Linked DNA regions of Homo sapiens. The protein of the gene in region 4 interacts with the protein of the main gene of each other region in a pairwise test. Each region holds a gene or a part of one and is shown on either strand. Other genes may lie near its edges.

What was found.
Region 1: the proteins of PDE6H (region 4) and COTL1 interact in binary tests that used the Homo sapiens proteins (3 or more experiments, as listed by UniProt).
Region 2: the proteins of PDE6H (region 4) and POU6F2 interact in binary tests that used the Homo sapiens proteins (3 or more experiments, as listed by UniProt).
Region 3: the proteins of PDE6H (region 4) and CHAT interact in binary tests that used the Homo sapiens proteins (3 or more experiments, as listed by UniProt).

Annotation. Positions count from the first base shown.
Region 1 is NC_000016.10:84,565,833-84,573,608, forward strand, and holds part of COTL1 (coactosin-like protein), read right to left. Parts: intron 1,124-7,776; coding exon 1,013-1,123; 3' UTR 1-1,012. UniProt on the Homo sapiens protein: Binds to F-actin in a calcium-independent manner. Has no direct effect on actin depolymerization. Acts as a chaperone for ALOX5 (5LO), influencing both its stability and activity in leukotrienes synthesis.
Region 2 is NC_000007.14:39,337,317-39,345,092, forward strand, and holds part of POU6F2 (POU domain, class 6, transcription factor 2), read left to right. Parts: exon of another isoform or gene 1-1,804; intron 1,805-2,325; coding exon 2,326-2,699; intron 2,700-7,776. UniProt on the Homo sapiens protein: Probable transcription factor likely to be involved in early steps in the differentiation of amacrine and ganglion cells. Recognizes and binds to the DNA sequence 5'-ATGCAAAT-3'. Isoform 1 does not bind DNA.
Region 3 is NC_000010.11:49,623,741-49,631,516, reverse strand, and holds part of CHAT (choline O-acetyltransferase), read right to left. Parts: intron 6,045-7,776; coding exon 5,864-6,044; intron 3,910-5,863; coding exon 3,732-3,909; intron 1-3,731. UniProt on the Homo sapiens protein: Catalyzes the reversible synthesis of acetylcholine (ACh) from acetyl CoA and choline at cholinergic synapses.
Region 4 is NC_000012.12:14,975,566-14,982,665, forward strand, and holds the end of PDE6H (retinal cone rhodopsin-sensitive cGMP 3',5'-cyclic phosphodiesterase subunit gamma), read left to right. Parts: intron 1-2,406; 5' UTR 2,407-2,447; coding exon 2,448-2,581; intron 2,582-3,613; coding exon 3,614-3,654; intron 3,655-5,834; coding exon 5,835-5,911; 3' UTR 5,912-6,300; downstream 6,301-7,100.

The DNA.
Region 1 (7,776 bases), on a different chromosome or scaffold from region 4:
TTTTGGGGTGCTGTGAGCCCAGGGCTTTGCTCAGCTCACAGCTAGCGCGGCGGGCAGAGCAACCCTTCGGCCCAAGCCATCCTCGCAGCTTACACAGAAGCTTCCTGAACCTAAGGGATCCGTTCCCAGCTCTCCTTAAATTCCCAGTCCCCACCCTGGGCCTCTCTCCCTAACGATCTTGTCGCTTTGGGAGCCCCTGAAGTGAACCCTGAAATACTCCCTCCGTCAACTCTGGGCTCAGACCTTTGCCCTTCTCTGTGTCACAAGGAAATTTCGGTCAAGAGGGTGGGAACAGGTGGTTTCAGACCGTGCAGCAAAGCCACTGCCAGGTAAGTTTTAAGGCAAATTTTATCTCTTCTTATTCAGTCTGAGCCGGACCTAACCTTCTCACCACCGAGCAATCCTGCCTATGCTGGACATGCATCTTAGGCAACTCCGGATGGAGGTGGGATGAGGGAGCCCGGGGCAGATACCAGGAGGTCTGGGCCTTAGTAGGGAATGGACGTGTGTGCTTATGAAGGCTGCAGGCACCGGGCACAGCTCCTGGCCCAGCTGCCCCTCAGTGGTACACAGGAAGCAGGGTCCAGGAAAACTGAGATGGCAAAATAGGCCCGGGCTCTGGAAAGCAACGTGAGGTCATGCAGATCTCACTAGGCAGACCTCGTCGCGTGGAAGAGAAATGCCAGGAAAAGGGGTCACTGCAGGAGGCACCTCGGATCTGATGGCAGGCAGGACCTTGCATCAAAATGACTTTTCTTTAGAACAAAAAAGAGGGGGAGAAAAGAAAAAGAAGATCAAAGAAAGAGGTTCCATGAGCGTCATGAGATAGGACACGGCAGGGTTCTAAGGGAAGCGGGAAGGTGGGGGCTGTGGACACAGGGTGGCGGGCGCTGCCTCTCATGGCTTCTTTTCTCCCTGGTGGGCTGGTGGGCTAGTAGCTGAGGCCGGCGGTCCTCTCCCCCGGGGAGCAGGCAGATGACTTTGGCAAGGGGTGGTGTGGCGGGGGCTGGGGTTACTCCGTCTGGGCGTCGTAATTGGCTCCCCCCGCCTTCTTCAGCTCGCTCTTGATGAAATCTTCCTCCAGCTCCTTCCGATCACTGATCACAAACTCCTTAGCGAAATTCTGCAAGAACAAAGGAAAACACAGCGTTCCTATTAAGAAGGAAGGCACAGGATGTGAGGGTGGCTCAGGCAACACACTGGGAAGCAAAGCACTGAAAACCCTGATGAGAGATGGAAATGGAAATTCAGCAGCAGAGTCAGTCAATGGAAATTCAGCAGCAGAGTCAATGGAAATTGAACAGCAGAGTCATCTGGCAGAAAAAACCTGACTGGGAGGAGGGAGTGGGGCAGATCTGATGCTGCGTCTTCCCATGTCCGTGGGGATGGCCCGAGGAAGCTGGGGCTTGAATTTGGGCTGTTACCTTGGCCAAGTCCCTTCAATTCTCTGTGCCTCAACTTTCTCATCTGTAAAAAACTATCTCGTCAGGAAAATAATAGGTTACGAGGTTGGAAAGGCTCACGGGTGTGCAGGCACTCCAAAAAAAAGAAAAGGACAAAAGCTCAGATTGGTGTCTTTTGCCCATATCCATGATGTAAATAGTCCCCCAGTGGCTGACGTCAAGCTATCAAAGTGATGTCACCATACGTGGAGGTGGAAGGAGACAGGCGTAATTGGCTCTCGCCAGCTGGGACAAGCAAGCTTCAGCCACCAATGTTCCTAATGACGCAGGAGCCTCCAGTCCTGGGTCTGCCATGGGCTCTCCACCCGCACTGAGTTACACGAGGGTAGAGGCTCTGCCTTCTTTCAACAAATACCACGCCAGGCTGTGGGGCTACAGGGCTCAGCAAAATGGATGCAGTCAGTCTTTCCTCTTGCAGTACACAGGTTTCACCCATAGAACCCGCAGGCACCCATGATGCACTCAGTAAACGCTTGTGGCATGAATGAGGGAACCAGGTGACCTGGCTTATCAGACACCCTTAAGCCATGATGATACACAGTTACTGCCATATGTGGATCATAAGACTTTAACAAACAAAATTTCAGAACGATGACGGACAGCTTGACAAAAAAAAGCTATCAAAACCACAAATAACACGTCTAAAGGTAAGAAAATCATCCACATTAAAAAAAAAAGCCCATAAGGAAATAACATAAACAATGACCACCATTTTTCTTTTTCTTGAGAGAAAAGCCTGTTGCCCAGGCTGGAGTGCAGTGGCGCAATCTTGGCTCACAGCAACCTCTGCCCCCAGGGTTCAAGCCATTCTCATGTCTCAGCCTCCCAAGTAGCTCGAACTACAGGCGTCTGCCACCACACCCAGCTATTTTTTGTATTTTTAGTAGAAGCAGGGTTTCGCCACATTGGCCAGGCTGGTCTCAAACTCCTGGCCTTAAGTGATCCGCCCAGCTTGGCCTCCCAAGGTGTTGGCACTACAGGCGTGAGCCACCACGCCCGGCTAACCACAATTATTAAGCACTTATGTGTACCAGCACAGTGCCACAGTACTGAGAATGACACACAGTAGTAAATATGAATCATGGAAGGTGGAAGCAACCCCTATGTCCATCAACAGAGGAGTGGATTATCAAAACACGGTCCGTCCACACAATGGAATATTCCTCAGCCACAGAGAGGAATGAAGCGCTGCCACACGCAACTACATGGATGAACCTCGGAAACAGGATGCTGAGTGAAAGAAGCCAGGCATGAAGACCATGTACTGTCAGCTGCCATTGGTATAAATGTCTAAAAAAGGCAAACCCATACAGACAGAAAGCAGACTCGTGGTTACACAGAGCTGGAGATGGGAACAGGAAATGATAGAGACGTTCTAAAATTGGGATTGTGGTAATGGGTGCACAACTCCACAAATTCACGAAAAAGTACTGAAAAAGTACACTTAGGATGACTTGATTTTGAGGTACATACATCATACCTCAATCAAGTTCTTTTTAAAAAGGCCCGTAAGGTGATCAACATTATTTCCATTTTAAAGGTGAGGAAACAAAGGCTGGAAATTACAATGCTTGTCCGAAGTCAGACAACCAGAAGGTCCAGTTGATGCCAAAGCTGGCGTCTTGAAAGAGCCACCATCTCCTTTTGGGGTGATGAAAAAGTTTTGGAACCAGACAGAGGTAGGGCTTGCACAACACTGTGAATGTTCTGAAAGCCACTGAATTGTACACTTTAAAATGGTTCAGGCCAGGTGCGGTGGCTCACGCCCGTCATCCCAGCACTTTGGAGGCCGAGGCAGGCAGATCACCTGAGGTCAGGAGTTCGAGACCAGCCTGGCCAACATGGCGGAACCCCATCTCTACTAAAACTACAAAAATCAGCCGGGCGTGGTGGCGGGCGCCTGCAATCCCAGCTACTGGGGAGGCTGAGGCAGGAGAATCGCTTGAACCCGGGAGGCGGACGTTGCAGTGAGCCAAGATCGCGCCACTGCACTCCAGCCTGGGCGACAGGGTGAGATCTGTCTCAAAATAAATAAATAAACATAAAAAGGTTCATTTTATGTTAAATGAATTCCACCACAATTAAAAAATAAAAAACAAAAAAGTCGCCATATTGCCAAGAATGATGAGCCCAGGAGCATCCCGAAGTCAAGCTTTACAATAAAAAGACAATGCATTTGGCGCGCAAAGCCACTGAGAACACTAACAAAGTGGAGAACGGGAGGTTAATTTTTATCAAGCAGCTGATGTGTGCCAGGAACAGCCTCACTCATGTTCTCGTTCAGCCCTCAGTATATTAACTTTATTTTATTTTACTTTTTGAAGATAAGACTCATGGGCTGGGCTTGGAGAGATTTGCCCAGAATGACAGAACACCCTTGAGATCCTTTCTGTTCCCACCCCACTACAGTGTGTTACTAAGTGTATGTGATCCGTGCAATGAAAGAACACAAGTTGGATGTAAGAGCCAGAAAGGAGAATTGAGAATTAATGTATTTCTCAACCCTGAGCCCCACGGCATGAGGGAGGGGCAGAGAGCTTTCAGAAGGAGGAAGCCAACAGCTTAAGATGCTTATAGAAGAAAAGTCCAAAGTTCCTCTGCTTTGTGATAGCTATATATGGCAATCTACAGAAATAAGAACACTTGAAGTTCCAGTCGGTTAGCTATTAGAAGATTTAGATTAAGAAAAATAAGTTTGAGAGCCATGGATGGTGGCTCATGCCTGTAATCCCAGCACTTTGGGAGGCTGAGGAGAGCAGATCATGAGGTCAGGAGATCGAGACCAGCCTGGCCAACACGGTGAAAACCCTAATCTACTAAAAATATAAAAATCAGCTGGGTGTAGTGGCGCGAGCCTGTAATCCCAGCTACTCAGGAGGCTAAGGCAGGAGAATGGCTTGAACCTGGGAGGCAGAAATGGCAGTGAGCCAAGATGGCGCCACTGCACTCCAGCCTGGCAACAGAGCGAGATTCCATCTCAAAAAAAGAAAAATAAGTTTGATAAGGTCTAAGAAATCTCAAATGAAAGATACATGGAGCTAGGCACAGGTCAACCTAAAACCACAAGTACTTAGGAAATCAAATTATAATGAAACAAAAACAAGCAAAACAGACAGCAGATCTAGTAAAACATAACAATAAATGTAAATGAACAAAATTATCTTTAAAAATGCTATGTTTCAAACTACAAAAAAAAAACCCTCAAACCTTGTACTACATACCAGAGACATATTTAAAATCAAAAGATTAGCAGAAAAATGATTCCAAGTTATACAAACAAAAGTATATACAAAAGCAACCATATGATCTCTGAAAACATTTAAAGCAAACTGAGTCTCACAAGATAAACAGGGTCATCCTGCAACTTGATAACCCTCCTGGCTCAGCTGATGTTCTTTCCTCTCTGCTCGGTAGAAAATAGAATGGAAGGTTATTTTCCCTGTTGAAGGGCTGTTTTTATCATCAGTACTTAGAGAGGTCTTAAAAGACAAGTCGTCCAGCAATCCGATTACTGCCAAAAAGCAAAGGGTTAGAAAGCAAGTGTCTTAACACACTGAACTGGCTCATACCTAAAAGTCCTGTATTCCTATTTCGTTTCCAATTTATCCTCAGGGGAACACAGAGAGAATGTGCAAAATTGAGTCTTCCCTCATTCCTGCTTTTTTTTTTTTTCCTTTTTTGCCTCTTCCAATGACCAAGAAAGACAAAACTTTAAACATTTCTGAAGATACAGTGACCATGGCCATGCTCTAGGCCCCTTTAGAACAGACCCCAGATTCTCTGTTCGGAAGAATCCTGACATACTGCCTCCAGGGGTGGGCTGAAGACCTTGTATTCAGACATGAGCCTGTTGGCTCCCTTCACCTTCAGTCTGGCTGACAGCTGGTGCATTTGGCTCTGCTCCCGTCCTCACACGAGAGCCCCCGCCGCGTGACTGCCAAGGTGTACAGCCTGGGACTCGATGCAGCCCACGCCAGTGCAAAGCCGAGCAGAGAGAAGGGATGGACGGAGGACACTGGAGGTCCGGGCTCCCTCTGGGCCTTAGTATCACCATGGCCTCATAGACAGCAGGGTTGGTGGTCCTTAGAGGTCATCTCTTGCCCCTCAATTCAGAAGGGGAAACTGAGGCTCGGCGAGTGACACCATGAGGCTGGTTAAGCGGCAGTCATGCCCCAGCCCACTGCTCTCCACCCTTGCACCTGGGTCCGCTCATCTCTCCCCCCTGCCCATCAGCTTCCCTCCCCTCTTTGTGTCTCCTCCTCGTGCTGCTCCTGTGTCTTGTCCACCCCTTCCCCGTTCTTTGAGCCTGGCAGTGACTCCTAGCACCTTCCAAATAAAGTGTCTACATCTCCATCCAATCATCCCCCTGGGATCGGCTCCCCGCTGTCACCTCACCGGCAGACTGGTCATGCACGGGCCCATTGCCTGGACGTCACGTGGACACATGGGTGAGACGGTGAGACGGGCCTGTGACCAACAGTGGTCAGTTCCCTTGCAGCCAGAGCTGGACCCCAGCCTGCTCCTGAGTGGACACCGAGCCGCTCCCACCTTCTATAGGGCCAGCAGCAACTCTGCAGGGGCCCAGGTGGTCAGGCCGCATGGAGGGGGTACTAGCAGGCCTCCATCCTACACGGGGTGCTCCCAAGCCCCCAGAGGCTTACAAAGGTGAGCCAGCACCTTCCATTCAGGGCGTGGACTCCACAGAATGTCCCCAAAATGTCTAACCTGAGCCTCAGCCTAAAAACCAACTGACAACAACCTCCACACCTCTCCACCTCCACGCCTTCCAGCGGCTCCCATGAGATAAGGGAGTTGCAAGCACCACTGGGGAGTGGGCTTCATTGCATGTTTTCAAAACGAGGCAGAAGCTGAGCAAAACAGCTCTGGGCAGACAGACTCTGACTTGGGAGCAATGCCTGAAACTGGAGGGAGCCTGCGTGGAGCAGCTGAAGTCTGCCTTGCACCTGAGGCTGGAAACCAGAGGGAACATATGCATGCAAAGCGTGGCCACCCCTACACCACACACACCTCAAGACACAGCACTTGCCAGCACCCACATGCCACCAACACCCACGGGGGCAGGGGCAGGTGGCAAGACTCAGGAGGCAAGTCCTTCATCAGAAGGAGACTTCCAGGGCCTAGAGCAATGCGGACACACACAGAATGTTAATTTCTCTTTTTTTGAAACACAGTCTCACTCTGTCACCCAAGCTGGCGTGCAGTGGTGCGATCTCGGCTCACTGCAGGCTCAACCTCCTAGGTTCAAGCGATCCTCCCACCTCCGCCTTCCTAATAGCTAGAAATACAGGCACAAGCCACCACGTCCAGCTGATTTTTGTATTTTTCTGTAGAGACGTGGTTTCGTCATGTTGCCCAGGCTGGTCTCCAACTCCTGGGCTCAAGCGATCCACCCATCTTGGCCTCCCAAAGGCCAGAATTTTGAATTTTCTTTCTTTCCTTTTTTTTCTTAGACAGGTCTCACTCTGTCACCCACGCTGCCAGGCTGGAGGGCACTGGTGCAATCTCAGCTCACTGCAACCTCCACCGCCTGTGCTCAAGCAATCCTACCACCTCAGCCACCGAAGTAGCCGGGACTACAGGTACACACCACCATGCCCGACTAATTTTTTTTTTTTTGGTAGATAATGGGGTTTTACCATGTTGCCCAGGCTGGTCTCAAACTCCTGAGATGAAGTGATCCACTGACCTCGGCCTCCCAAAGTGCTAGAATTACAGGCGTGAGCCACTTTGCCTGGCCGGGAATTTTCAATTTGCTACTAGCCACATTGAAAAATGTAAGAAAGAAACCAGTGCCATTTATTTTAATAGTATTTTATCTAATCCAATATATGCAAAATATTGTCATTTCCACAATGTAATCAATGCTAAAAGGTACTGACGAGGTCCTTTACATTCATTTCTTTTGAACCCAGCCTTAGAAACGCTGTGTGCCCTCCGGGTATACGGCACACACTGATATGGCTGGGTGCGCTTTCAGGCGCTCAGTGGCCACACGTGGCCAGCAACAGCGCAGGTCTAGACAGAACACGAAAGCGTCTGAAAGAATAATGTGATCAGGCAAACAGAATCATGAATCGCAGAGCATTAGAGCCCATCCGACAGGGGTGGACATCTGCGCCATGTCCAGATCTGGGTGGTGGCTTCAAAGGTATGCATCATGAACATTCAAAATACACAAAACTTGGGCCAGATGCAGTGGCTCATGCCCAGCACTTTGGGAGGCCGAGGTGAGTGGATCACCTGAGGTCAGCAGTTCAAGGCCAGCCTGGCCAACATGGTGAAACCCCATCTC
Region 2 (7,776 bases), on a different chromosome or scaffold from region 4:
CCTTTTCCTTTCATAGCTGCTGTTTCTGCAGTTAAATTTTACATTTAACATTGGCCTATGTCGTGTATAGTAACAAGACAGAGAGGAAACCATCATAAAAGGGAATAAATACCAGGGAAGAAAGTAAAGTCTTTAACCTTCCCTGCTTAGGGTCAGAATTTTACCCCAACAAGCATCATTTTATCTGCAAACATTCTTTGTAGTTCAAATATTAATACATCCTTGAACCTTCCTAACTGTACTCATCTTATTTTCTCATTCTTCTCTGTCATATTTCACTATGCTTTACACAATGAGCCACTTCGATGCACTATATTTTCACATTTTTTAACTCTCATTTTCATGTTAGTGTGTAGGTGGCTTTGGTGTTTTTCAGACCCAAGTTACGTTCATATATGCCCCTCCTGCTTTCCTTTGCATCTGGTGTATACCTGAACATATTTAATTCTGTATTATTTTTTGCTTGCAGATGTCAAATTAGTCTATGTAACTCAAAGGCTTAGGTTTATGCCTTTCCAGTCAAGCTGCTGTTATGGAAAACAAATACCCAAGCAATATGAACTTACGGATATGGAGGAAGGGAGACATATTTGGGACCAAGGCTCATTAGTAGGTTAGGGTCTGCTGTACCTACCCGTCTGCCAACATCTATCTGCCAATATTCCCAGACTTTCCTGTTTCTAAATGCTGATTTAGATAAATGCTTTTCTAACCAAAATGAAGCAGTATGGTATTTAAGTCAACCATGGAAATAAGCATTAACATATGTGCCCCCACCTGAAAGACATCAGGTTAGGTTCGATTTGAATCAGGCAGGAGGCCAGATGCAATCAAGTCCCTGAAGTCTGGAACTCCACCAGAAGAAGAGATCAGGCTCCCCTGCCCCAGGATCCTCCAGACTGCAGAAGATCTAGGGAGGTCAGAATAGAGCAGGGCTCCCACATCTTTGATAAAATGTGATTTTGTAAACTAGAAGAAAGGGGGAAATGGCAAAAGCAGGCCTTTCTCTAAAAGGTCTAATAAACGGGATGATGCCGGGGTACTTTCCAGGCCTCCCTCATGCCATCTCTATCTCTACGATTACATCACAAGCCCCAGAACACCCTGGCTCTACACGCAAGGCAGGCCACACACTGGACTGCTTGCATAGACCTAGAGCAGTTCAGTGGCTCAGTGAGGACTTGCTATCCCAACTGGACCAAGTTGGAAGCCCTACATGGTATGTGAGATCACAGAATTGGTATTTGATACCCCTGGAAATGGTTGCATCGTCATTTCACCAATACAGCTACACTTTCCTCTAAGGCCTGTGGGTTTGACATTGATCCTTATATGTTTATTTGTTCATGGGCTTGTTAGAAAGCTTTTAGATTGAGATTTAGGCAAAAAAGAAAGTGAACTTGGTTTTTAGCCGTAAATTTCTCTAGACCATTCTTAGGTCAAACTAACCAGCTTCCTTCTGCAGAAATTGTTCAGTGCTACATGGGCATGTGAGAACAAATTTTGCGTGCTCAGTGCTAAGACACTTTCTCCCACCAACTCTACCTTTCTCATAACAAGATCTTAAAAGATGATTTCATTCCCTCAGTCCTTAGGTGCTGTCCTGTCCTCAGGTGCTGATGTCTAATCACCACACTGTTTGGTTCAGTCACCTGCTATCATCCCTCCAGTTTAGGGGTTCTGTCTCTTTAATCAGCAGGCAAAAAATTCAGACTCAGGCTTTTGACCCTGCAAAATGGAGAAGCATGTACTGCTTTTGAATTTTTAAAAAAAAAAAAAAACAGTTAGAAATTTGACACTAAGACATCTAAGCAACTGGGTGGAGATCTGAAGTAGCAAGTGAAAATGATACCATTAATGATATTGATGATGGATGTAAAGGCAATTGCAAACAATTGGTTTTTTGTTCTTAACTCCAGTCAAACACTTACCAAAACAACTAAACTGGTTGGACTTCAACAATCTAAATGAAATCTTGAAGCATGAATGTATTTCCCATGCAGTATGGAAAGGAAGAGAGAGAGAAAGTAGTTAAAAAACAATCTCCATTCCTACCACACACCTTTGGCTTGCATTGTTCACCACCTTTTAAAGTAATGCCTGATGTGTTATATGCTGGTCCTCCAGAAATTCTAAACTTTCCCCAGAAGTGACCTTTGTTCTCCCAGTGCCTCACAACACTCTTAAATACCAAAGAGCTTCAGGGGGCAAGGACAAGAATTTTCTAAAGGAAACCCTTCTCCACTTGCACTGGACAGGCTGTCAAGACCCAGCAAGACACTTTGTCATGTTATCTCACTCCACATTCGCTTTCTCTCCTTGTAGCTACCTCATCCCTGAACTCCCAGCTCCAGCAGCTCCAGCTCCAGCTCCAGCAGCAGCAGCAGCAGCAGCAGCAGCAGCCTCCCCCGTCAACCAACCAGCACCCGCAACCAGCCCCACAGGCGCCCTCGCAGTCCCAGCAGCAGCCGCTGCAGCCCACCCCACCCCAGCAGCCACCACCCGCCTCTCAGCAGCCGCCAGCTCCTACATCTCAGCTGCAACAGGCGCCTCAGCCCCAGCAGCACCAACCCCACTCCCACTCCCAGAACCAGAACCAACCATCTCCAACCCAGCAGAGCTCCAGCCCCCCGCAGAAACCTAGTCAGTCTCCAGGACATGGCCTGCCTTCACCGCTCACGCCACCCAATCCTCTACAGGTATGCTCCCCGTGCTTCCCGTCTGCCCCTAGGAGCACCAAGGACCTTTCCATGGGGTGGTGCCATCCCCAAAGGCAGAGGGACCACACAAAACTTAGCATCCAGTTCTGCAGCATCTAATTCAAATTGATCTCTTAGACATAGGGAAGAAGAAGCAACTAGAAGGCAACTGGGGATGCATGTAAACGAAACAAATAGAAGCCCATTTCTGTTGCCCTCCAAAGGATAAATGTTATCTGTTTCCTTCTGTGAGAGGCCAGCACTATAAGTGCATTTGGAGCCTGTAATAATTCCATTTTATGATACTTTTTGAAGGCAGCAAAGATAGCATCCAATTAAAATTATTACTAGCACAGTTTTGTAGCCCCATGGAGAACTGCATCTACTGTCCATGAGGCATGGTGGTTATTTCTCTATATTATGAATACAACAGTGTCTCACCTTAAGTACTTTGTGCTCTTTTGTTTCTATTTTTCTAAAGACTCTCTGGGGTTAGGAGGGCAAAGAAATTTAGCCCCAGTCTTATGTCCCAGATTCCAACCATTACTCCACAGACTAACAAGTACTCTAAATTCATGCCAAGAGCCTCAACCAATATGCATCTTTATAAAGGAATAAAACTTCTATAGGTTTACTTTATTACTGTGAGGCTGAGAGCTTCATAAATAGATATTTCAGGCTAACCATGAGAGCTCATCTATAACCTACCTATTGAGAAGGAATGGATAGGTGCATTCATATATATATATATATATATATGACTTTAAACTTCAGAAAACCATTTTTAACTTAGGTGTCTTTAAAATAAATTAGCTTCAAAACATAATGACTGTGATGTCATCATATCAGATCCAGAAATTAATAACTCAGCCAAGCCATCCATTCTTTGACTTGCACAATGACATTTTTCCCTGTGAGATTTCAGACAATCTCGTGTATTTGTAGTACTGTGACAAAGTTAAACAGAGTGAGCAGCCTGTGGACCTGTTTCAAGTGCCATCTCATCCCCTTGCCATAGTGGTGGGTATAAACCTCAGTCAGTCCGGCTCTCCCCAGCCTGAGAATGACAGTAGCGATGGTATCCTTGGCTCCTAAATAGAAAAGTATACAAAATAAAGACAGGTTGGTACACGGACAGAAAGGCAGGTGGATTAGAGACTTGGTATTTTAGAACTTAGTTTGTTGTCCCATAGCTTTGTCTCTTCCAATTTGGATTCTCAGTGGTGTGGCCCAAAGCATTCCTAGAAATGAACACATTTGGGAGAGATGAGTCATTGTGTTTTTCTGGGCTCTTGGGCCAGGGCTACTTTCAATTTGAACATTTTCATGAGTGGAGTTTCAAGATGTATTTATACAATTCTTACGATGGTGAGACAACGTAACACCTTTGACCTAGGACTAAAATGAACATGGTCCAAAAACGTCTTCATTGTCCACTTGACACCTACTGAAAGAGCAGGTGTCATCAAATTTACAGAAGGCATGATTACAGCAACCTTAATGTTGGCAGCATTTGGGATTCAACTTTATTATTCCAAAAAATTAATTTAATGCTTTTTAAGAACACTTACATTAGATGTACCTATATACCATCTAATTTCTCTATTCCAGGCACCAAAATAGGTAAAATTACCAAAGAAAAATATTGCCCTTCCTTGAGGAGTGAAATTACTTAGGTGTGTCCCCAGTTGTCCGATATAGTCCAGTATTCCTTCCTGTTAGGTGAAAGTTTTGAGCTCTGTGGACCTCAGCCTTCCCTGAACACTGTCAGTGTTTTATAAATTTCTGTTGGCCAGTGAGATCCCAGTGAAGACAAGCCCTGTTGAATGACTGTTGACAGGACTTTAGATGAAGTGACCACGCAGCCTCATGAAAATAAACTTAGGGGAATTTCCGAAAGTTCTCCTAACAGTTTCTCGTGGAAATCCCAGGGCTGTTTGTTTTGTTTTGGTTTTGCAACAAATGAAGGCTCAGAGCTACATTTCTTTCTTTGTAACACTGAGAGAATATTCTAATTTTTCATTTTTGAAGTTTTAACTTATAAACTTAATAAATATGTTTAGAGTACATTTAAATATAGAGGAGCTGTTACTCTAACTTCTGTGGATCTAACAGATGACCACCAAATGAGTGACTTGCTACAAATTTTTTTTAAAACATTACTGAGAAGATGTTAAACAAATCTGTGTCGGTAGGCATAAAAGGACTTTTTTCCTTTACTACAGGCATGTATAAAGGAAATAGAGAATATTTTGGTTTAAAAAAAATTTTTACACTAGCTGCAGGCTTTTTGAGTTTGTGGAACATGGAATGTTTGAACTTTTTAAAAAGAAAACTGTTTAAAAGGAATTGCAAAGATATTTAACTCTCCAAACTAATGATCTTTATAAAGTGTTTTTGTTTGAAGATTATTAAGGGAATAAAGATCAACTAAATTCATGTATGATAGCCTAAATTTTATTTTACAACCCTTTATTTTCATGTGGGCTTTATCTTTTTACATTATTCAAAAATCTGCTGGAGAGATATTAGTTTAGAACTATGCAATGTAGATTACCAGGGAAAGCCAGTCAATTAGGTTTTTTGCTTTAAAAACAAAACTTTGGAGGACAACAATTATTTCTAAAACTGTGCAGATGCTCCCATATCTTTAGAAAAAAATAAATGTAAGTAGGTTGTGTGTTATATTTGGGTGAGGTCATTTCCTGAGATGAAAAAAAATTAATAGTGTTGGTAGGTAGTAACACTCTAAACAAAAATTATCCAAATACCTCGTATCAGGCTTTTCTGCAATATTGCAGTGTAATTTTATTTTACTCTTTTACTGAATTCTGTGAAAAGGATTACATTTACAAAACCAAGTTGTTTTAAGATAGATAGGAGTCTAAAGTATTATCCTTTCAGAGACGCACAGGTAGGGGGATCACTTTGTTTATTAATTTTGATCACTCAGCATTATAGGAGGTCTGGTGGTCTAAAGCAGACTCTAGAAGCTGCCCCTGGAGATCTGTCTATAGATTCTCCATTGAGACTCAGGACCCACCCACCCATGGCTTCGTTCTTGCCCAGGAGGCTTGAGGAGAGAAGTTCTAGACAGGAAATGCAAGGGCAGAGGTCTTCAGGGCCTAGCAGTCCCTGTAAATAAGTAAAGTAATCTTGGTTGTAGAACCCAAAATCAAATTTATAAAAACAGTGTGTGGGACAAACAAGATGCACTGTGAGCTGAATTTAGTCCTTGGGTGCCAGGATGGAGAGCAGTCCATACTCCTTATTTTTGCTCAAACCCACAGTCCACAGGCTGTGCCTGAATCTAAAACTAAAAATATAGACTGTGTTTGATAGAAGCAGAAACATAAATGGAAGCAATCTTTTGGGGCAAAAAACATGATCTAGGTAAAAAAAAAAAAAAAATTCAATACGTAATTTTAATCTGGATAGAGACCCCATAAGCATAAGAATGGTGAAATAAAAGCCTCCTTTCTATGACCTTTAAGAAGAATTTTCTTGAAAAGAAAACTCCTTGGGAGTTTTTATTTGCACTGGTAAAATTTCAGACATCTTATAAAAGCCCTATTGTGCACATATTCCCTCTTGAGTGGTCTGGAGATATGCTGGGCATGGTTGGAGCCCAGTCATGGTGTAGGTGGAAGAGGGTAACCGGAGGGCTTGAGTCCCCCTTCTAGTTCTGACCCTGCCTCCAACTAACTCATAACTTTGGATAGGTCACTTTAGCTCTCTGGACTTCATTTCCCTCATCCGTGTGGTCTGAGGTCTTTTTCAGGCCTATGAATCTATAATCTCAATGTTAGTAGGCCTCTGGAATTTTATTGGCTATTGAAAACTTGATGGTCCTGAAGATTCTCTGAGTATTCTTCAAGGTCAGGTTAATTTCTTCCCACTCAGCTGGGTGGCAGAGTGAAAAGAGAGTGGAGGACAAACATAAGTGGGATAATGATAGCAGAAGCAGATTTTATCTTAGCCAGAGAGTCCAAATTAAAGTCAAGTTTTTATCCTCAGAGAGTCACTGCTATAAGCTCTGGTCCCAGATTGCTTTTCCACACCTATACATTAGAGAAGCTTAAGAAACCAAATGCTGCATTTAACCTTGGCCTCCCACGTACCATCTTGCATGGCAGGACGCAGGATAATCTTTTCCTTTTCTTGTTCTATTGCACATTTTAATAAATAACAGAGGGAGAGAGAGATCAGTAGGAATTGGACAGTGAAAACTATCTGTGCTTATATGAGGAATGAGGGGCACGGTCACCTCCTCGGAGGTGAAGTTGCTTGAGAGCGTGAAATGTATTCTCAACCATGTGCATTTGCTAATGGAAAGGTCTAGTTACCACTCAGGCACAGCAGAGTAAAACTGCATCGGAATCCCACCTCTGTTGCGCAGTGGGCATTGCCTTCTGGTCTTCCCATTTGAGATATTTTCCCACTGGCAAACTTAGTACTAAGTTCCAAAGTGCATACATAATGGGAGAAGGTGGTACATTATCACTTTTTAAAATAAAGAGCCCAAAGCCTTGGGAAGGAGCTAGACCTACGGGACTTTCAAGTTCTCTAAAGCAAATGGTCTCCAATCATGGGTCTGCCCTATGGAAAAGACCCAGTGTCCTAGGCCAAACCCCCTCCCCCCCCAGCAATTAGTCTTAATCGGTTTACCACAATATTACTCAAGGCTCTGTGGGACTAGGTTTGTTTTTTCATCTATAAAAGGGAGGGGGTAAAATTAAATACTTTCTAGAACTCCTTCAGTTCCATTGGAGTTTTATGTTACAAACCCCTAAAACTGTGTAGAGTTGGGTGACTCTGTGGGTGTATTCATATAACTCCTTTGTGTGGCTACTGTAAATATAGAACTCAGACATCTCTCTACCTACACAGGGCTAAATCACTACGCAGAATTCTCCTAGCCAGGACTGAGATGATGGTGAGGCTTGGAAGCACTCATCTCAGATGCAGAATTTAAGGGTGTACTCAAAAATTCAGATAATGTTTGAATGAAATATTTTCAAAAATCAAAATGAACGCCAAAAGTCTATGAACAACAAAATTTCAAATTTTTAAATGC
Region 3 (7,776 bases), on a different chromosome or scaffold from region 4:
AAAATTCCTGTGTTGAAGTCCTAACTCCCAGAAGCTCAGAATGTAACTGTATTTGGAGATGGGACCTTTAAAGAGACAATTAAGTTACACTAGGCCATTTGGGTGAAGCCTAATCCCATATGACTGGTCACCTTATAAGAAGAGATTAGGATGCAGATACGCACAGAGGCAAGACCACATGAAGACACACAGAGAAGGTGGCATCGACAAGCCAAGGAGAGAGGTGTCAGGAGAAACCCACCTGCTAAACTGTAAGATAGCAGGTGTCTGTTGTTGAAGCCTCCCAGTCTGTGGTACTTTGTTACGGCTGCCTGAGCAGACTTGAACCTGCTGAGCAGACTTGAACACACTTCCTTACTCAGCTCAGATTCCAGCATGACCGTTCTTGGCCACACCTTCACCGTCCCTACCAGTTACACTCACCAACTCTGGCTGAACCTGAGGAGCTGAGCGTTGGTGGGGAAGATCACATAACAATGTTAATTAGCCTCTCCTAAAATGTATCACTTTGAACCTTCATATATGAGCTCAACACAGTCCATAAATCTTATCAAGTTTTTCAAGTCTTCTTTCCCACTTTCCAGGAGGCTATTTCACACAGTCGATTTCATCTTCAACATCCAACTGCCCGCCTCTTATCTCAAGGTTGTGATCTGAGACCAGGAGGTACCAGTTGGGAGCCTCTGCATGCTCCTACCTCTGCTGCCTCAGGCCCAAGCTTTCCACTTCACCCTGTACCAACCAAAGGCCTCTTATTTTCTGAGTTCTATCTCCTTTTGCCTTTGCAAGAATTCCACCCCTCCATTCATCTCCTATCTCTTCATCAATTTCTTTTACTAAATTCCTTCCATACATTTGTCTCTCCTCCTAAAAACACCTCCCTTGACCCTCATCCTCTTTTAGCAACTCCCTCATTTTTCTGCTCCTTTTAGTGTCAAAATGTCTGAGAAAAAGTCGACCATACTCACTGGTTCAACTCACTGACTGCCTCATCGACAATTTCTTTCTGCTGTTGGATCACTTCTGTCAGTGTGCAAGCATTTGTTCTCCTGCTACTCCAGTCTGACCCTCAGTAAGCCCAGTGACAACTTCAGGGTTGCCAAGCCGGGTCCCCTGTGTCCTGTTCCTCCTCCAGCTCTCCACAGCATTCCATGTGGCTGGCCGTTCCCTCTGTCTTGAATCTTTGTGACTCTTCTGGCTTTCCTTTACTTCATGGGCTACTCTTTCTCAATCCCCTTTGCATCCTTCTCTACCTGACCTCCAGGCTCCCTGTTCTTCTGTTTCTAGATTATCTCACCCAGGTCCATGACTTTAAGGATCATTTATGCGCTGATGTCCCTCAAATTTATTGCTCTGTACTGACCTCTCCCTTGGGCTCCAAACATATATATTAAGCTTGACGTCTCCACCCAGATGACCCAAGCACCTCTAACCCAACATGTGTGGCAATGATTTCTCCATCCTGTACCCACTCCCCGACCCTGTTTCCCATCTTACTAAATGGCACTAACATCCACTCACGGCTCGGATAAAAAGCCCAGGAATTGTTCTCGCTTTCAATGGCCTTGACGTCACTGGTCTCTCCATCTTCACTCTCAACCCTGTCCCAAGCTGCCATACTCTTTCACTGGGAAACCGAAATCATTTTGTAAATGGTCTCTCTGTTTCTGTTCCATAGGCAGGGCTGCTCTGGGGAGGGGGGATCTGTGAAGGATCAGTTTCCTGTTGTGTAGATGACACAGTTGGCGCTAACTGGATTAATCGGATTACCCAAGGGGAGGCGCATGTGTCCCCTCCTTTCTGTCGCATTTCCCTCAGAAACAGCACTTCCATTCAGAAAGCCAGATCAAGTGCCATTAACAAATCAATTCTGATCTGCAGCCCAAGTGCTCAGACCTTGGGGCAATCCAGCCAGCCCTGAAGGGCGTGTCTTGGGCCTGGCCTGCTAATAAAGTGGAAACTATGCTGGAGGCAGAGGCGATTATTTTGATGCCTGTCTCTGTCCCTGAAGGGGAGAAGAGTGGGATTTGATTACACCATGGTCTCCCGAGGGAATTAACTCACTGCGGAATGCTAAGTTATTAATTCTCCAGCACGAGGTTAGGTCCGGGAGGGCAGTCAGCTCTCACACCCCTCTTTGGCTCCTGCAGCCCCCTATTTATGACAGCATTCAGGAGGTGCCCAATAATTGGATGAAAGAATAATTAATTGGTAAGTCGGGGAATAAGTCTGGGGCCTGGCATTTTTAATCACCCTTCACTCTTTTATTTAATAAATGTAACTGGGCCCAGACTGTGTTTCTCAGAAATTAAACCAAACAGACAAGGCCCCTGTCCTTCTGACCTTATAGGCAGTGGGTAGGAGGTGGGGGGAAAGGCAGATAATCAGCATTTATCAAACAAATGCAAAGTTGTCCTCAGAGAGTGAGCAACAGAGTCAAGGTAAGCGAACGGGCCACAGTGACAGAGTGTGCGGGAAGGATGCCCAAGGCAGGCCTGAGGCCGGACACCTGGGCTGAGCTCTGCGTGCGGCAAGGAGCCAGCTGGATCTGGGGGAAGACCCTTCTAGAGAGAGACCAGAAAATGCAAGTGGCTGTTAGAAAAAATAGGCCCAGTACATCCGGCTCAGGCCACCTTTGCTGGGCAGCTATTCTCCTCCTCACCCTGGGGGTAAGGTGGGTGTGTCCCTGCTGGGCCTCGGGCTTTGCCCAGGGTTGGTCTGCCTGCCTGGGTACCATCCTTCCCTCCAGCCTTTCTCACTCATGCCATGGGGCTTTGTTCCATTCCCACCTCTTCTAACAGAGCCTTTCACAATCCCACTCGGAAGGGCTCCGTCCCCTCTCTGAAGTCCTGGAGCACGTTTTTGACGCCTGTCTGAAGTGGGTCAGCACTGCATGCACCTGGATGTGAGTCTCCTCCCCATGCCCCCTCTTCCTGTTCCCATCATGGGGCTGCTCTTGGGTAGAGGCCTCAACTCCTTTGTCTCCCATACTCCCTGAGCCAAGCCCAGGGCCCTCAGTAACAGATGTGGAGAGTCTGAATAGATTGCCTGACCCAGTAAAATTCTGAGGGGTAAATAAAGACTCACAGAAGTCTTGCTTCTCATCCAGTGTCTCTAACATGGGCAAGGAAGGAGAGCATTCCATCAGCTCCTGGAATAGGACCAGCTTTGGATTTGAAAGTAGTTTCCAGAAGGGTGATGAAAAATTTTCAAGAATATTCCTGGCTTTCTTATGGGAATGCTTGGAGACTTTCATCAGAACAGTGCCACAAGATAAGGGACAGCTTGAAGATGAAGAGTCCCAGGATGGAGAGATCAGGTGAAAGAGGTGGTGAACCACTTTCCCAGAGGCAGGCTCCATCCCACACCCCCATTCAGCGACTCCCCCAGCCACTATCAGTGAGCGCCACCCACCAGGAAAACACACCTGCTCACTTGCAGCCAGCCTTCCTCCAGCTAACTCCCCCGCCCCGCCCAGTATTCTCAGACATCCCCAATTCCAGCACTAGTTAGTCCCACCAAGAAAGCCAGATACTGTCAGATGGAACACGAGGGCACAAAAGGTGGCTTCGGTGGCAAGGCACTGTGGCTGGCCGCAGGGCATGCTGTGGGCCCTGAGCTCCCACACTATGGCTGATGGGGATGAGGCCCTGGCCCAACCCTAGAGGAGGGAAAGCCAATGGGCACGAGCATGAGATGGGCATGGAGATGTGCTGGGCACTGCGGCTGACCTTTCACGAGGACCGTCCTGGCCTCGGCCCACTCGCTCCTCCCGTCAGACGTCAGCAGGCCAATTGGAGGCAAACGCTCGTCCTCGTTGGAAGCCATTTTGACTATCTTTCTCAACTGAGTGAACAGATCCCCCTCACTGAGACGGCGGAAATTAATGACAACATCCAAGACAAAGAACTGTGGGGTAAACAGGTCAAACATGTCACTTGTTGGGTGGCCCGTGGCACCAGGCCTTCACTCAGCCTTCACAGGTAAGCTTGGGGCAGGGATGCTCAGGCCCAAGGTTCCCAAGGTGTTTGGTGGTTCTAGTCTCAGTTTAGGGACCAAGCCAAGGCTGTTGACTGTGCTGGATTCCACGCTGCCCCCAATCAAAGAAGGCAACATTAAACTTAGCCAAAAGAAAATGTGTTTCATGGTTCACGGAATCCATTATGTTTGTGGGGAATGGAATATAAATTGGCACAGCTACTGTTGGAGGGCAGTGTCTATCAAAACTAAAAATGTGCATACCTATGACTAAGCAATTGCACTTATAAATGCATATTTTAGCCTGAGGCTTAGAGAAACGTACCCGTGTGTACCGGAAGACACGAGGAATGTGCCTCTCGGCCTTGTTTGCAACAGCAAAATGGTAGCAAGAGCCTCACTGTTCTCCAGAAGGGGAATGGCTAAGTGAAATGTGGTGTATATGTCTAGGGCATGTCTACCCAGCCATTGAAAAGAGTGAATTAGCAACAGATAGAGCCACAGTGATGGGCCTTAAACACACTGGTGAGTGGAGGAAAAAAAGCAAGCCAGCAATCATATGCAGAGGAAGATTAAAATGGAAAACCAACACACACCATGCGTGCATGTGCACCTACACATGTGTGCATGTGTGTGCACCTTCACATGTATACCTACATGTGCTTTGTATGTCAGCCCTGTGGTTTTGTCATTTTGTAGCTTTGAAGGCTAGAGCCTTGGGCTTTGTGAAGGGTCTATTCCTAGACCCAGGTCAAGATACACTTTTCAGCTGATTGACATGAGTACCTTGTTTTCCCTTCCCCTCCAACCCCCTAGCAGTGTCTGTATGGCCTGGTCTTGTGCAGGGGCCCAGAGCATGTCTGGAAGAGGTGGATACGGTGGCCTGTGGGAGCTGGGAAATACTTGGCTTGACTTTTGAATGAAGATGGGGAAACGTCCTTGGTCTATGGCCAAGGTGTCAGGTGGGCTGCGAGAGCTCCTAGATGGCCTTCAAATCTAGGAACAGAGGTCACAGCTGCCCTCAGATGTCAGGGCTCCACAGAGCTCCCAACTTACTAAAAATGTGAGGAGAGCCCAGGATCACATTGTAGAGCAAGTACCAGGGGAGTCCCTGGGATGGTTGCCAAACTTGGGTTTTAGCAAAGCAAAAACAAAAACAAAACTGTTTGTCAGAGGAAATATTTATGTGAAGCTCAATATATGGAATATATAGTGCAGTGGGCACAGGGAAGAGGTCAGGAGCCCTCATGCTCAGCCTGTCCCCCAGGACCCATGGGTCCTTGTTGGCTCTGTGGAACCCAGTCTGAGGACCTGAGCTGCAGGGGGTAGAGCATGACCTTAGGGCACTGGCCAGACCCAGGATTCCTTCCCACTCTTGGACAGACCACTTAACTTGTCTGAGTCTCATGTCCTCAACTGTCACACAGAGATCCTAAGGCCCCCTCTGCATGGTCACTGTGAGGATTAAGTGGGATGAATGCATGTTAAGTGCTGAGCCCACAGGCTGACACATGAAAGGTCCTATTTGTCAGTCTGTAACACTGTCTGTCTGTGTGTGGTCTCCAGAAAGGCCAGAGCCTGGGTGACTGCATGGAAAAGAACAGATGTACAGGTGGAGGTCTCGATCATGACCCTCAGTGCATCAGTGCTGAAGTGAGAGTCCAGTGAGGATATTCTCAAACTGACGGCTCTCATTCTTAGAAGGCAACTGGTGGAGAGACATGGGACTGACTGGAAGTAGGGGCCCCACTTTGGAGACATGGTGCCCCAGCTCCCTGTGTGACTCAGGGAAGGAGGCTGAGCCCCCTCGGAGAAGGTAATGGACGTGAACGCATGGCCACTGTATGCTCTGTGCCCTCCCTCACCAAGACAAGGGGTTGCTTACCTGATTGCAGCAGGCTACGATGACGTGCTCAGGCTCCGGCATGATGCTGCTGTTCTGAGCCACCAGCGTGTCCTGGGTATGGCCGGGGAGCCGGTAGGAGGAGAAGAGCCCATAGTATTGCTTCATGCAAAGGGGCTGCCCTGACAGCTGGCCTTTGGCACAGTCAGTGGGAATGGAGTGGCTGAAGGAGAGGAGTGGGAAGGGAGGCAGCCACGAGGGGATGGTGGGTGGTGAGGGGAGACAGAGAATGGGTTTTATTGTAACTTGATCAGGCAAAATGGGGCACAGAACCCAGAACTGCATCATCATGGCAGATGCAGAGCTCAATTCTCCACTTTTTAAAGTAGTGGAGGCCCCATTTCCACAACACGTGGAGACCCTCAGAGTTTTCTCAAACCTCTGCCTCATGCACGGCATGTGCAAAGCCTGCCAGTTAGCCTTCTGCATCTTTGCTTATGCTGATCTTCTCTCGGCGTGCCTTTGCCCCAACCCCAGAACTCAACTGTTCTATTCAGAAAACTCCTTCCCCTCCTTCAAGAGCCTACTCCTTTATCATCTCTTTTAGAAGCCTCTTCTGAGGTCAATGCAGGAAGTTCTTTTTCCCTCTGGTCTCAGCATGCCTTGTGCCTATCCTTCCTTTCTCCCTCCCTTTCTTCCATCCATCCACCCATCCATCTATCCATCATCCATCCATATATCCATACATCTACCATACTTCTACCACGAAACATCCATCCCTCCTTCCACCCACCACCCACTCATCTATCCACCATCCACACATCTATCCACCATCCATCTATCCTTGCATCCACCCATCCATCCACCAAGCATCCATCCATCCTTCCATCGACCCATCCATCCACCATCCACCCATCTATCCACCATCCATCCATCTTTCCATCCATCCATCCATCCATCCATCCGTCCATCCATCCTTCCTTCCTTCCACTCTTTCAGCCAACAAATATTTGTGAAGCACGTCCTCCGTATAGGCCAGGCACCATTCTGGGATGTGGGGATATGGCAGCAAATAAGACATGCAGCTCCTGCTCTACTGGGGTGTAAGTCCTAGGATGTGTAGGTAGGGAGTAGACCACAAGCAGCAAACCAGTGAACAGGAGACTGTCAGGTAGTGAGACAGAGTGTTGGCAGGGACAGGAGGTGGTGACCAGGGGCAGTCTCACTGAGGCAGGTTGATTGAGCTGAGCCCTAAGGGTGAAGTGTCCCAAAGCACTGCAACTCAAAGTATGAGTATTGCACTGAACTGCTGTGACTGACCCATGACTTGGTGTAATGCCTGAACCCAGAAATGTTTGTAGCAATGTGATGGGAGTTTTATGTCTGTTGAATCCTGTAATAAAACATTTGGTCTCATATTTCATACCGTTTTTCTAGTAATCAATTTTTTGTTGTTTTTCACAAATTTTACAAAATGAAAGAAAATATATTGGTTCTTCCCCAGAGGCAGCTTGAGAAGCACTGATCAAAGGCAGAGAGAAGCCAGTGGGGCTGAGGCCCAGTGAAGACAGGGCCAGAGAGGTGGGCAGGCCAGGTCCTGTGGGGCTCCAGTGGCAGTGGAGAGGAGCTATCGCCTTATTCTTGGTGCAGTGAAAGCCCTTGGGAGGCTTTAGCACGCAGGGGCATGACTGGGTTTCCATTTTGTTGTTTTACTGACCCTGCTTATATGGGGAGAATGGACTGAAAGGTGTCACAGGAAGAACAAGGAAGGAGGTTGTGGCAGAGAAGGAACGTGATGTCTTGTGAGGGCAGCAGGGAAGGAGGAGGGAGCTTGGGGACACAGTGGGGAGGGAGAATGACCACATCTGAGCACCATGGGTTACATGAAGGTGCAAGGGAGAAAGCAGAACAAGCACAGGTGACTTCTAGGTTCCCAGACTCACCAACAGGGCATG
Region 4 (7,100 bases):
CAGCGCAGATCTTGGCTGCTCACCAGCTATTCCCAGGGTCCCAACCACACTTGGGACAGACACAAGGTTTGCCTGTCTACCGGGGGTAGAGAGGGCCCACAGAACGGGAACTGAATTTAGTGAGCAGAGGAACTGGCAGTGCATTTCCTAAAGCCTGAAAGCTAATGACTTCTCTGTGCTCTGATGGAGAAGTCAAAGGGTCAGGATCTCATGACCAAGGTTTACAGTATTTGTTCAATTTCTTTTGTTTTTTTTTTTTGTTTTTTTTTTTTGGAGACGGGGTCTTGCCCTGTCGCCCAGGCTGGAGTGCAGTGGCACAATCTCAGCTCACTGCAAACTCCACCTCCTGGGTTCACACCATTCTCCTGCCTCAGCCTCCCAAGTAGCTGGGACTACAGGTGCCCGCCACCACACCTGGCTAATCTTTTGTATTTTTAGTAGAGATGGGGTTTCACCGTGTTAGCCAGGATGGTCTTGATCTCCTGACCTCGTGATCCGCCCGCCTCGGCCTCCCAAAGTGCTGGGATTACAGGCGTGAGCCACCGTGCCTGGCCTGTTCAATTTCTAAATTAATTTATTAACTCATTTGACAAATATAATATATATGGCATGATTACTGTACACCATGCACTGTTGTAGGTTCTGAGACTGGAAGGACAGCCTCATGAAGCTAGTCCAGTAGGGGATAAAGGAAGGAATCACAGCATGAGCAGGTGGTCCAGGGTCCTGGCCAATCTCACCATCCCTGGTACTGGCAAGGGTAATAATTTAGTAATAATCAGAATTTAAATAAGAGAAAAATCTTGGAGGCGAGGATAATAATTGCAACCCAATTGTCAAGGAAATAAGAAAACAGTATGGACTGGAAGTTATAGAATATGAGGTTTCAGGAATATGCAGTGTGGCCAGTAAAGAGAGTCATTGTTAGCACGAGCCAAAGACTGTCAGGGAGGTTTGCAGTTAACAGTATTAGCATAGGCTGGTGTGATGGGTCATGCCTGTAAACCTAGCACTTCGGGAGGCTGAGGCGGGAGGGTCACTTGAGCCCAGGAGTTTGAGGCTGTAGTGAGCTATGATTGCAATTGCACCACTGCACTACAGCCTGGCTGATGGAGCAAGAACTTGTCTCTCTTAAAAAAAAAGAAAAAAGAATATTAGCATAAATCTGCAATGGGTGAAATAAGGAATCTTATGGAGACAAAGCCCCCACACACTAGTTTTTATAGAGGAGACTGTCTCAGGGTAAGAGGCAAAAGCAATTTGGAGTTCTCTGGGGCTTTTCAGGATCTTCCTTCCAAGAGCAAGTTTTGTTAACTCTTACGAAAGAAAGGAAGAAAGAAAATAACGTCATCCAAAATGACACATTAATTGCTTAAATTTATCTTTTTCAATAATTTTCTTTGATTTGTATTTGAAGAATGGCAATGTGCATTTCTGTAGCCAAATTAAAGTCTGAGAACACCATATTGGATAGGTCCGTGGTGTGGATAGAAGAAGGCATTGAAGATTTGTGAAAAGTGGGGGCTGAAGAACCTTATGTCTCGACGTAGAGTTGAAGCACAAACGTATTACTTAATTATCCTTCATTAACTTCTGTATGTGCGTGTGTATTAAGATGTGTTGAATATATTCATGGGTGTTGGTATTCCTGCTTCAGAGGTCCTCCTGTCCAGACAACTACACTGTCATCTCCCAGAACTAAGAGAGAAGTTTCTGGTTCATGTGAGGATTAAACAAAATAATCCTATCTTAAACTATAAGGACATGAAGGACTATAAAAAAACAGAGGCCATAAAAAATGCTCAATAAACATTTAGAGTCAGGTTATTTTACAGCTGGATGGAAGAATATGTAAAGCTTAAAGAAATTGCAGATGCTGTAAAAGACTATAGATATCACTGAGTCCATTTTCCTCTCTTCGTAACTGACAGAACTGGTAGTCACAGAGAAGTACAGCATCATAATAAATTCACGTAGAATGCTTGTGGCAAATCTATTTTATTTATTTATTTTTAAATTTTAATTTGTTATACCTAATGTGAAGCTTTAATTTAATTTATTTATTTAAAAATTGTTTTCAGTGGCAGATCCATGGGAACAGCATAGCTACCTAGATTTCTGAGTTTTAAAATCTATCAATTGTCCGTTTACACAACTGATAGATTGTGTAAGTAATGTAGCAGAAGGTAAGTTTCCATTCCATTCCATTAAGTGCCTGCATTGATTTATACTCTGTTTTCTTAAAGATCCCTTTTAAAGATGATAACTTCTCCCCTTTTGTGTCAACACAAAATACTGAGCTTTCTTGTTGAAGTACTTTTCTTCTCCAGCCTGAAATAAAGATCTAATAACCAATGGTCCCCATGACTTGAAAGATCTTCTTTTTTTTATCTTTCACTGTCTAAGGAGGCTGAAAGGGAAACATCAGCCGCCCGGGGGGAGTTAAAATGAGTGACAACACTACTCTGCCTGCTCCAGCTTCAAACCAGGGTCCTACCACCCCACGCAAAGGCCCTCCCAAGTTCAAGCAGAGGCAGACTCGCCAATTCAAGAGTAAACCTCCAAAGAAAGGTGTGAAAGGGTAAGACCAAAATGAAAAGAAAAACTTTCTATTACTTTCTTTTTCCCACAAGACTGCTTTTGTTTTGGGAAATTGGTGCTCACAATATTAAACAGACTTACAAAAATTTCCACTCCATCCTCTCTTTTCCTCTGTAACTCCATCTTTGATGAATTGTGTCTTTATCCCTGGAATTCTTTCCTTCTCAACTTCCAGGTCTGTGGCCGAATTTAACATGGCAAATAGAGGCTTTTTACAATAAACTTTGACTTTGCCTTGCAGGCTTTTGATGACCACTCCTCTTTACTGAGACAACCTCTACGTTAATCTGTAACACTGAACCACTGACCATTTCCAGAAAATATAGCTTATATTTATGTCTTCCAATTTTGTATCCTCAGTTCTTTATTTTCCTCTTCCTCTCCTTGGCAAAATCCTATTGATTTTTCAACACACAGATCATATGCTAATTTCTTTTTGAAGCTACTCCTGACTCTCTTTAACAAACTATCATTACTTTCATGTTTGCATTTTGTACATTCAGCTATCATAACTTACATTATATCTTATATTTATTTATTTGTATCTATTCTCCGAGGCTAAGACCACTCAGAAAATTTGTCTGTTTTCTTCTTAACTCTCTGTGCTTAATAAAATGCCTGGTATATAATAGATGCTTAGTTAATGATTTTGAATAAGTAAACAAATGGATGAATTCATCATTTTTAATGCCTTTTGTATTGCTTTCTCATTTCAATTTTTATTATAAAAAGTGAAACTTGACTAAGTTGTCCCACTGATGGTTCTTTCTGACTCTTAATTGTTTTAGGTTAAGTTCCTACAGGAGAGAAATATCTCTCCAGTGGGATACACCAAAACCTGCCTGAGTGACATTTTCTTTGCTCCAGTTCAGGGCAAACTAAAGGAGTTTCTCACATACAAACACTTAAACCTCTCCTTCTTCCCCCTTGAATCAAGAAACTCTCCATGTGAGTGACTCCAAAATTCTTTTGCTCTAATCTCAGCTAATTTCTCCTTTATTCTTTTCCATAGATTTGGAGATGACATTCCAGGAATGGAGGGGCTAGGAACAGGTAAGCCATCCACTGATTTAAGTGAGAACTTCGCACTTGGAGTTCTGCCTTTTTATATACTTCAGGCCTCAAGGGGCAGTTGAAAGTTATGAGAAATACCCAAGGCAGAAGATCTGTGAAGACATAGAAATGTGGGGATTTAATTTACCCTCGAAATAAGTACATGTGTGCCCAGATACAAAAGCCCTAAAAGAAATCAGGGTAGGCCCAAAATTTCATAAACCTTCTTGTTTTGTCAAACAACCTTTGAGGGCATACAATGATAAATTATAGACTTTTATGGTAGAAAGATTTTCATAATTCATCTCCCCAAACTTCATTTTTCAAGGGAGAAATCTGAGACATACAGGAATTGGCAGTCTTTTGTCTGAGGCTACCAAGTGAACTATTGGAAATAAGGGTGAGGTCTGGAGATCTCTCCACTCTACCTGGCAAACCACTTCCTTACCAATTTCCTCTTTTTACACATCCTCTAGCACCCAGAGGAGGATCTTACATACTGAATGCCTGCAATATAATTTTAAAAATTGGTTACCAGATTTTTATGTATCATACAATGAATGCAATCACTGCATATTTTTTAAATTAATAGACTTTATTTCTTAGAGGAGTTTAAGACTTACAGAAAAGTTCAGCAGAAAGTAGAGTTCCTATATGTCCTCTCTACCATCTCTCTCCCCTTTTACACAGTTTCCTCTATTATTAACATCTTGTATTAGTGTGATTATATTTGATGAGCCAATGTCGATGCAGTATGTTAATTAAACTCCATAGCTTGAATTAGAGTTTTTATCCCTTGTGTTGTAAAGTTCTAAGGGTTTTGATAAATACCATGTACCCACCATTATAGTACATATTGCAGTACATATAGTATCATACAGAATAGTTTCGCTGCCCTATGCTCCACCCGGTCATCCTTCTCTCTCTCTCTAAACCCCAGACATCCACTAATGTTCTTACTGTCTCTATAGTTTTGCCTTTTCCAGAATGTCATATAGTTAGACTCATACAGTATACAGCTTTTCTGGACTAGCTTCTTTCATTTAACCATATTCATTTAAGGTTTCTCCATGTTTTTATGTGGCTTGATAGCTCATTTTTTAAAATCACGGAATGATACTCCATTGTAGGGATATACACAGTTTTTTATCCTATTGAAAGATACCTTGGTTTCTTCCAAGTTTTGCCAATAATGAATAAAATGCCCCTAAATATTTATGTGCAGGCTTTTGTGTGGACATATTTTCAACTCATCCAACACACCTTTGATAAACAGTAGCACTTGTAGTAATCAGTGTCCTTCCCAGGCAATCCTCAGTGTCTCTTTCTGCAGGCAAATACCAATCCTGGGATCTTGAATGAATTTTCCAGCCATGTTATAAAGCAAATTTTCTATTCTTTTAGATCAACTGCTTCCGTATTTTGGCAAGGTGCATACAAGACCAGCAAATTTGCTTTGGGATCTGGAAGATATGCTTGACTCTGACAGTGTATTTGGAATAATGTAAAGAGGTTTATAGGGAGTGAAGGTCTGAGGTCTTTGACCTGGCTCTAGTCTCAGCTCTACAACTATGTGGTTTTTGCTAATTATTTCATCTTTCTGTGTGTCAGCAAGCTTCTTTGTAACTCAGGGATAATAACATCTTATTGTCTAAAACAAGAAGCTGGATTAAAAGATGCTTTGTGATCGTTTCTCAATATGTGATTGGATATAGGCAATTCAAAATGTAAAGGAATAGAAGAACAATTAGAGAAGAAACCGATCTAGATTGGTAGGGAAGACTATGGATACCTAGACCAGGGAGATTCAAAGTGCTCCTCTTTTTCATTTTAACCCTTGGCCTGACTAGAATTCCACTTCTGCCTCCTCCTTAGTGGTTGTGGTTTGGGGAGACTCTGTGTAATCAGTGGGCTGTACCCCACAGGGAACCCCCCAGTCAACAGCTGTGGATCACCTCCCCAAAGAGGAAGCAGAATGAAACCAACAGAGATGCCTGGTGCAACAATTAAGCAATTGGTCTGATCCTTCCTGGGCCACAGGGCCACGCTAGGGAACTTCCCAGTCAGGGGACAATGAGCAGGAGAGAGGAGTGAAGTGTCTCTGCCTGAAGGGTGTCTTTCTGTGAAGAAGCTCTCTTGGGGTGAGGTTGGCTTACGTGCTCTTCTTCCATCTCTTGCAGATATCACAGTGATTTGTCCATGGGAGGCATTCAGCCACCTGGAATTGCATGAGCTCGCTCAGTTTGGGATTATCTGAAGTGCCAGAGGTTCTGCCACTCTCAATGACATCTGCTGTAATTTTGGTTGCTTTTGCCCTGTTGATCTGCCGGAGTCTTGAAATTCAGCTGATTGGAAGTGGTTTCTTTGACTTTCAAGGTCATTCCCTATCAGTTACTACTAAGAGTTCTCTTACTGTCAGAATCTCTCTTGCAGTACAGCTCAAAATAGTGGATGCATTTCAAACTTGACCACCTTTTCCTACCAGCTAGTTAGAAGTCATCAATATTTCTCTACATTTTGTTTATCTGTAAGTCCTTTAAATCTATTTTTGCTAGGCATTCATTATGATTAATAGTAGACTTTTAAGACAACATTTATGTCACTCCCCACCTCCTCATATTTAATAAAGGAGATATTTACCTTGAATGTTGGTGAAGTTGTATTAAATGCTACGTAGAAATATCTGATGCTGTGTTCTGAGAACCAATTAAACAAAGAAGGCACAGTCATACAGGAAATAAGTGCAGTGCTTACAAAACAGCATAGCATTAAGATTTGAATTCTGTAAGTTTGTAAATTGTATAATTTCCGGGTCTAAATTTTTTTTTTTTTTTTTTTGCGACGGAGTCTCACTCTGTCGCCCAGGCTGGAGTGCAGTGGCACGATCTCGGCTCACTGCAAGCTCCGCCTCCCGGGTTCATGCCATTCTCCTGCCTCAGCCTCCCGAGTAACTGGGACTACAGGCGCCTGCCACCATGCCTGGCTAATTTTTTGTATATTTAGTAGAGATGGGGTTTCACCATGTTGGCCAGGATGGTCTCGATCTCTTGATCTCGTGATCCACCCCCCCTGGGCCTTCCTAAGTGCTGGGATTACAGGCGTGAGCCACTGCGCCCGGCCACTGGGTCTAAATTTTATTGAACTAGGTTATTCCAGAAGTCTCATGCAGCTCTAAGTTGTATAGTTCTAAGTTGGTGAGGAACTGGGATTTAAACTCAGAATTCTGACAATGTGAGCCTTCTTTTCGGTACTCTGGTTGAGGAAGGTTTCCTTCCACGGCATCCCTTCAGTGAAATTATTTTGTCCAATGACTTAAAATGAGAGTCACAGGAGTTACATACATTGACTGCTTTGTGTACATCTGTAGTAAATCTAATCTTTAAACTGTCAATTGAAAAGATTTATATGCTGTAAGGTTTAGACTCATATGCAAAGGATAGGCAGTT